Regions from separate parts of the Homo sapiens genome. Here region 2 is linked to region 1. Evidence: fine-mapped expression QTL. A gene starts in region 1. The other region holds a variant in brackets. All regions are shown on one strand. Distances are between the middles of the regions. Region 1 holds the start of INPP5K (inositol polyphosphate-5-phosphatase K). Region 2 overlaps INPP5K (inositol polyphosphate-5-phosphatase K).

Region 1 (2,784 bases):
ATTGTAATTCGGCCGTTTCCTACTGACAGGATGTCCTTTTGCTTTTGTCTGCCTCCTCTTCACATCTTCCTCTTTATCCACCCTACCAAACAAGCAAAACATTTATTTAAAGTAGTTTTAGGCCGGGCGCGGTGGCTCACACCTGAAATCGCAGCACTCTGGGAGGCCGAGGCGGGTGGATCAGCTGAGGTCAGGAGTTCGAGACCAGCCTGACCAACATGGCGAAACCCCATCTCGGCTAATTATTATTATTATTTTTTTTTTTTGAAACGAAGTCTCGCTCTGTCGCGCAGGCTGGGGTGCAGTGGCGCAATCTCGGCTCACTGCAACCTCCACCTCCCGGGTTCAGGCGATTCTCCTGCCTCAGCCTCCCGAGTAGCTGGGATTAACAGGCGCGCGCTATCAAGCCCAGCTAGCTTTTGTGTTTTTAGCAGAGACGGGGTTTCACCATGTTAAGGCCAGGCTGGTCTTAAACTCCTGACCTCAAGTGAGCCGCCCGCCTCGGCCTCCCAAAGTGCTGGGATTACAGGCATTGAGCCACCGCGCCCCGGCCTACGTTTCATTTATTGACGGCTAATTCTGTAGGAGTCCAGGAATCCCCAAACGTCCCATATGCAATAGGTAATCCAATAAGTTTGGAGTAGAAGCCTGAAAGTGGGCGTGGAGAACGGAGGCGCTCCCGCAGTAGCAGGAATGGGGAGATTACCTGCAGCCGGGGGGCGGGGGAGACCGGATCCCAGGCAGGACAGTGGCTAGGCTGCGTGTCCCCACCCCCGACCCTCGTTTGACCCCTGGGAGCCGGGGCGAAGACAGCACAAGGACGGAGCCCTCGGATCCCTCACGAGTGGGGCAGAGGCTGCGGCGGCGGCGAAGAGACAACTTCCGCCGGAAGACGGCCCCTGGCGCGGGGCACGCTGGGAGCTGCGGACGGCGGGCGCGGGCTGGGCCGGGTCTAGTGGCGGCCGCACACCTCGCGTCGTCTGGGGCAGTGTTGCGCGTGCGCTGATGACAGGCCCGACACGCCCCTCTTACGTCCGCGAACCCGTCTTCGCTCAGCCTCTCGCAGCTTTGCGCTCGTGGGAGAGTCCCGCCTCCTTCTGCGAACCGCACCACCCAGATCCCGGGGTGCGCGGAGGGCGCGTCTCTGACGGAAGCCGGGGCGGACGGTCGGAGTCCGGAAGAAAAACAGTCCGCGACAGCTAGGCGCGTGAGACCGGCCGCCCGCAGGGCTGCTCTGGCCGGGACCCGCTGGCCGGGAGACGCGAACCTGCCGGACCACCGCGCGGGGACGACGGCGGCCATGAGCTCGCGGAAGCTGAGCGGGCCGAAAGGCAGGAGGCTCAGGTGAGGGCACCCTGGCGGCAGAGGCAGGCCTGCTCGGGGGGATCGGCGCCCCTTGGGCTGCGGGCTGGGGGTGGACAAGGCACCAGACCTCCATGACTGCCTTTGGTTCAGAGGCGCTCTCGCCTTCTCCCACGCCTGTGTCAGGTGGGCTGTGTTGGGCCCGAGCCTCGCGCCCCCTCTAAGCCGAGGCCGCCAAGCTCGTTCCCACTGGGGCGCAGCAGGTGTCCCGGTTGCTTTCTGGAGAGGACAGCCGTGTGGGGTTGTTTGAGGTTAAAGACATAACGAGGCCGTCACCCTTCGGCTCTCGGTTAGAAATCTTTTTCCTACTTTTCATCAGCACATACATCAGGAGGTCTGCCTGATCCCATGGTGAACCCCGGGAATCCGAAATCAGATTGAGATAAGATCCTTTAGGGAAGTGACTTAGCCTGGTCTCTTGCCTGCTCTTTCACGGGGAACAACGCTAATCGCCCACTTAGTCTAAGTCACGATGCTTGGATTTGCTGCTAATCGTCGGATTTGAGAGTGGGAACAAGAAATCCGGACTTTTGCTCTCCATCCTCTTAGAGTGAGTCTGGGAAAAGAAGTCTCTGAGTAAAAGGTCTTTGTTCCTTAAGCCTCTGTCGGACAGCAGGGGGAGATCGTAAACAAATGAAGCTCAAAATCTCAGGCCGAGTGCCTGGGAAGGTGGTTTCTGTATAGTGTTGTTTATGCTAACAGGGAGGGACAGGAAGTTGCTTTAAACTGGCCAAGAATTTCTTGAAGTGCTTTTGAGAACGTCGACCTCTAAGGACGGGGTCTGTTGGAGGAGAGATGTTTTGGCATTAACTGCCCTTTTCTCCCATCCCCCTGTACCCTCTGCCATTCCAGATCTCCAGCTGCTGCAGGTACTCCTCATCGTGTGCCTAGGACTCATGCTAGGCTGTTCCTGGTCTCTGCAGGGTCTGTAGCTCCTGCCCGCTCTGTGCTCCGCACAGTCTGAGGCTTCTTGAAGAGCTGCTGTGACTGACTGTTCCACTAAAGACATCTGTAGGTCTCTCTTTCCTGAGCCTCTGACTGGATCCAGTGTCATTGAGGCCCCTTATCTAGTTTTCTTGCTTCCCTAAGACTTGTAAGCTGAGGTGGAAAATATCCAACTGATGACTTTTCCCCAGAGAGTACTCTTTATTTTTCACGGAATACTACGCAGACATAGAGCATAGACTCTTAAGAGAGATGTCGAGAAACCTGTTACTTAAAAACTCCTTGGCCGGGCGCGGTGGCTCAGGCCTGTAATCCCAGCACTTTGGGAGGCTGAGGCGGGCGGATCACCTGAGAGATCAGGAGTTCAGGACCAGCCTGGCCAACATGGTGAAACCCCGTCTCTACTAAAAATACAAAAGTTAGCCAGATGTGGTGGCACACACCTGTAATCCCAGCTACTTGGGAGGTTGAGGCAGG
Region 2 (2,784 bases), 22 kb after region 1:
ACTCCTGTCTTGTGGAAGGAACAGAGTGCTGAATAACTTGTCACTCAGAGCTGGGTGGAGCCCAGAGCCCTGGAGCTGACCCCAGTCCTGTCCATCCCCCTCCAGGTTTACATCGACATCAGCAATATCCCTACCACTGAAGATGAGTTTCTCCTCTGTTACTACAGCAACAGTCTGCGTTCTGTGGTGGGGATAAGCAGACCCTTCCAGGTAAGCAGTGCTGGTGAGGGAAGGGGAAGGGTGAGGGCTTGAGCTCATCACTGGCTCCCTGAGGCCCAGGCCTGGGAGCCAGCCGGTACATGAGGGGCCGCTGCAGTGCAGGAACGGGGGTGATGGAAAGCACGGAGGAAGACCCGCTCTCCATTTCCACCACCTGCTTTATCCCTGCAGATCCCGCCTGGCTCCTTGAGGGAGGACCCACTGGGTGAAGCACAGCCACAGATCTGAGCCAGGATGGGAGTGAATCCCAGGCGGAGGCCAGAGCTGGCAGCCAGCTCTGCCTTTCCACTGCCGGGAGTGCTGGGGGCCCAGCCTGGCCCCCTGAAGAGACAGCCAAGTGTCGTCCACATACTCCTCCCAGAGTGAGCTCTAACCAGGCTCATTTGCTCTCTCCACTACTCATCTCTGGAATTAGCCGCTTAAATACAGGTTTTTGTTGCTGAGATGTGAGTGAAACCAGCTAGTGTGTCAACAGTGAAGACCTGGGGACAGTTCTGCGTCTCATTTCTGGATTCCTACCCCCTCTTCTAGTCTTGCCCAAGTAGTCCTGCCAGGCACATGCCCCATTTGGCACAGGCCTGCATTCTTGTCGTGCCGTCCTGGGCCTCAGGCTGTCTGGGAGGGGAGATGCTCACATTTGTACAGGCTACATAGACTGGTGCAAGCAGTGCTGGATTCCAGGAGTCTTGGCATCTCATAGCTTGTCCCCGTGAGGAGTGAGCAGAGGGTCTGGGATTTCTGCTTTCAGCAAAAGCAGTCTGACTCAGTGGGCAGAATGGAGGGGCCCCTCTAGCCAGGCTCTTACGCCATGGTTATGAGCAGGTTGATGAGGGTCCTTCGGCCAGCACAACCTTCCTCCCTACTCACGGCATGGAGTCTGACTGCATGGAAGTTCCAGATCCTGACAGAGAGAACTGGGAAGGATCCAGGTTCGCTTCCGTTGGTAGCTTGAGTCCCATGCCTCCACCCTGCCATCTGAGGAAGGGGTGACAAGTGGTCAAGGAGCTGTGGCCACAGACTTTTCCAGGGTGGTCCTTGGCAGGTGAGGTGCGTCTGTGCCACCCTTGTCAGGAG[C/T]CATTGACGACGGGCCCCCCCTGGACCCCCCGGGACCTCAGAGTGGGGGCAGGCAGAAGGGAGAACCAGCTCAAGACATTTTGGAGGATCTGGCCCTGGGGTTCTTCAGAGAACACCCTCTAGGGGCTTTGGGGACATGGCCTGTCCCCACATCCAGCACTTGCCTCCGCCATGGTCACTCGGCAGCCCTTTTCCCAGGAGAAGACACCTCTGGGAGCCTGCTCAGTGCTTGTCCTGCCATCCTGTGTCCTGGGACTGAGGGTTACTCCAGTTGCTCTGTGTTGCATACTCTCCCCCGCAAGCCTGTGTATGAAGAATTGTCCCCTGGCTTCCAGCAGGCCATGGCTGGCTGTTTTGTGACTGTTACATTGTGCAGGGGTAATTATTAGCGTGGCTTTTACACTTGCGTGTGACTGATGATTGGGGGGTGGGGGTACGGTGATGGGCCTGGGACTAGCTGTAGATTCCAGGAACAGGGACCCTGTAGATCCCAACTAGACTTCTGTGTCTGAGATTTGCAGAAGTGGCCAGGACTGGGGCTAGGATGAGGTTCTAGAATGGTGAGCCTCTGGGGCCCTAACCAGGTGGAGCATGCCATCTATGCCGGTGGCCGCTTAATGTACTCTGTTAAGTCAAATGAGCTCTTGTTCATCCCTCCTGACCCGCTGCTCTGCATACCCTGGTGTTGAGCCTTCTGCCTGCGTTAACCAGTCCAGAATGCCACCATCTTCTCTTTCTGCCCCACTTCTCCTCAGCCCCTTCTTGCTGAGTTTTCCCCCATGGTAACCTATCCCTGCCCCCAACACATATACCTAGGGACCTCCAAAGCCCTCACTTGCCCACCTGTTCCTTCTCACATGCACAGCCATCACGAGGGTTACTGCATGGCACCCTTCATTGGGCAGATGGGAAAGCCAAGGCTCAGAGAAGTGGTACAGTCTCTTCAAAGTTCCAGGCACCTGTGGTTTCCCACAGGACCAGAAACAGGAATGGGGTCTGAACCCACCCGCAGAGCGGTCTCAGTAGTCTGTAAAATACAGATGATGTCCCTATTCTCAAGATTACTGTGGGAGAACAATTGCAGAAAGTGTATCGCACTAGACCCGCCTCCCCGTTCTGATTAATGCGGCCCCGGGGCTTGACCCCAGGGGTCCCCCCACATGCTCACCTCCCCCGTGGTGAACTGAGGTCGCCACACACCCAGCCTCCTGTGTGGGAGGGGTGAGCCCAGCAGTGATTGAGAGGCGGAAAGGGGAATGGGGGGTGCTCTCCGTCCTCTGGGCCCCAGTCAGGATATGGCCGTTCTGGGTCCACCCCGACCCACTGGGTGGAAACAGGAAATAAGTGAGACCTGGTGTGCACTGGGTCTACGCCTGGCTCCACGGCTGATAAGGGCCATTGTGTGGCCGCCGGGGATGAGCCTGCTCTGGATAGATGTGCTTCCCGGAGGAAGGAAGGAAGGCTTGCTAGCTTTTCCGGGGCGGGGGAAGC

What was found. PIP is the estimated chance that this variant, and not a neighbour inherited with it, causes the effect.
Region 2: its variant is fine-mapped to the expression of INPP5K in whole blood (TOPMed, PIP above 0.99).

What each region holds. Positions count from the first base shown.
Region 1 is chr17:1,515,016-1,517,799 of GRCh38, reverse strand. INPP5K (inositol polyphosphate-5-phosphatase K) reads left to right here and starts at 1,188. Exons shown (of 12, transcript NM_016532.4): 1 at 1,188-1,344. The coding sequence starts at 1,301. It overlaps PITPNA-AS1 (PITPNA antisense RNA 1), which reads right to left and starts at 881. Exons shown (of 2, transcript NR_028514.1): 1 at 707-881; 2 at 1-82. It overlaps PITPNA (phosphatidylinositol transfer protein alpha), which reads left to right. Exons shown (of 12, transcript NM_006224.4): 12 at 1-82. RefSeq lists a silencer at 803-1,102.
Region 2 is chr17:1,493,486-1,496,269 of GRCh38, reverse strand. INPP5K (inositol polyphosphate-5-phosphatase K) reads left to right here. Exons shown (of 12, transcript NM_016532.4): 11 at 106-210; 12 at 391-1,693. The coding sequence ends at 447. LOC105371483 (a long non-coding RNA gene) reads right to left here. Exons shown (of 2, transcript XR_934145.4): 1 at 2,645-2,784; 2 at 1,576-2,320. Among named protein-coding and RNA genes, the nearest start is that of MYO1C, 2.2 kb to the right of the region's middle. The variant C/T (reference allele first, on the strand shown) is at 1,294.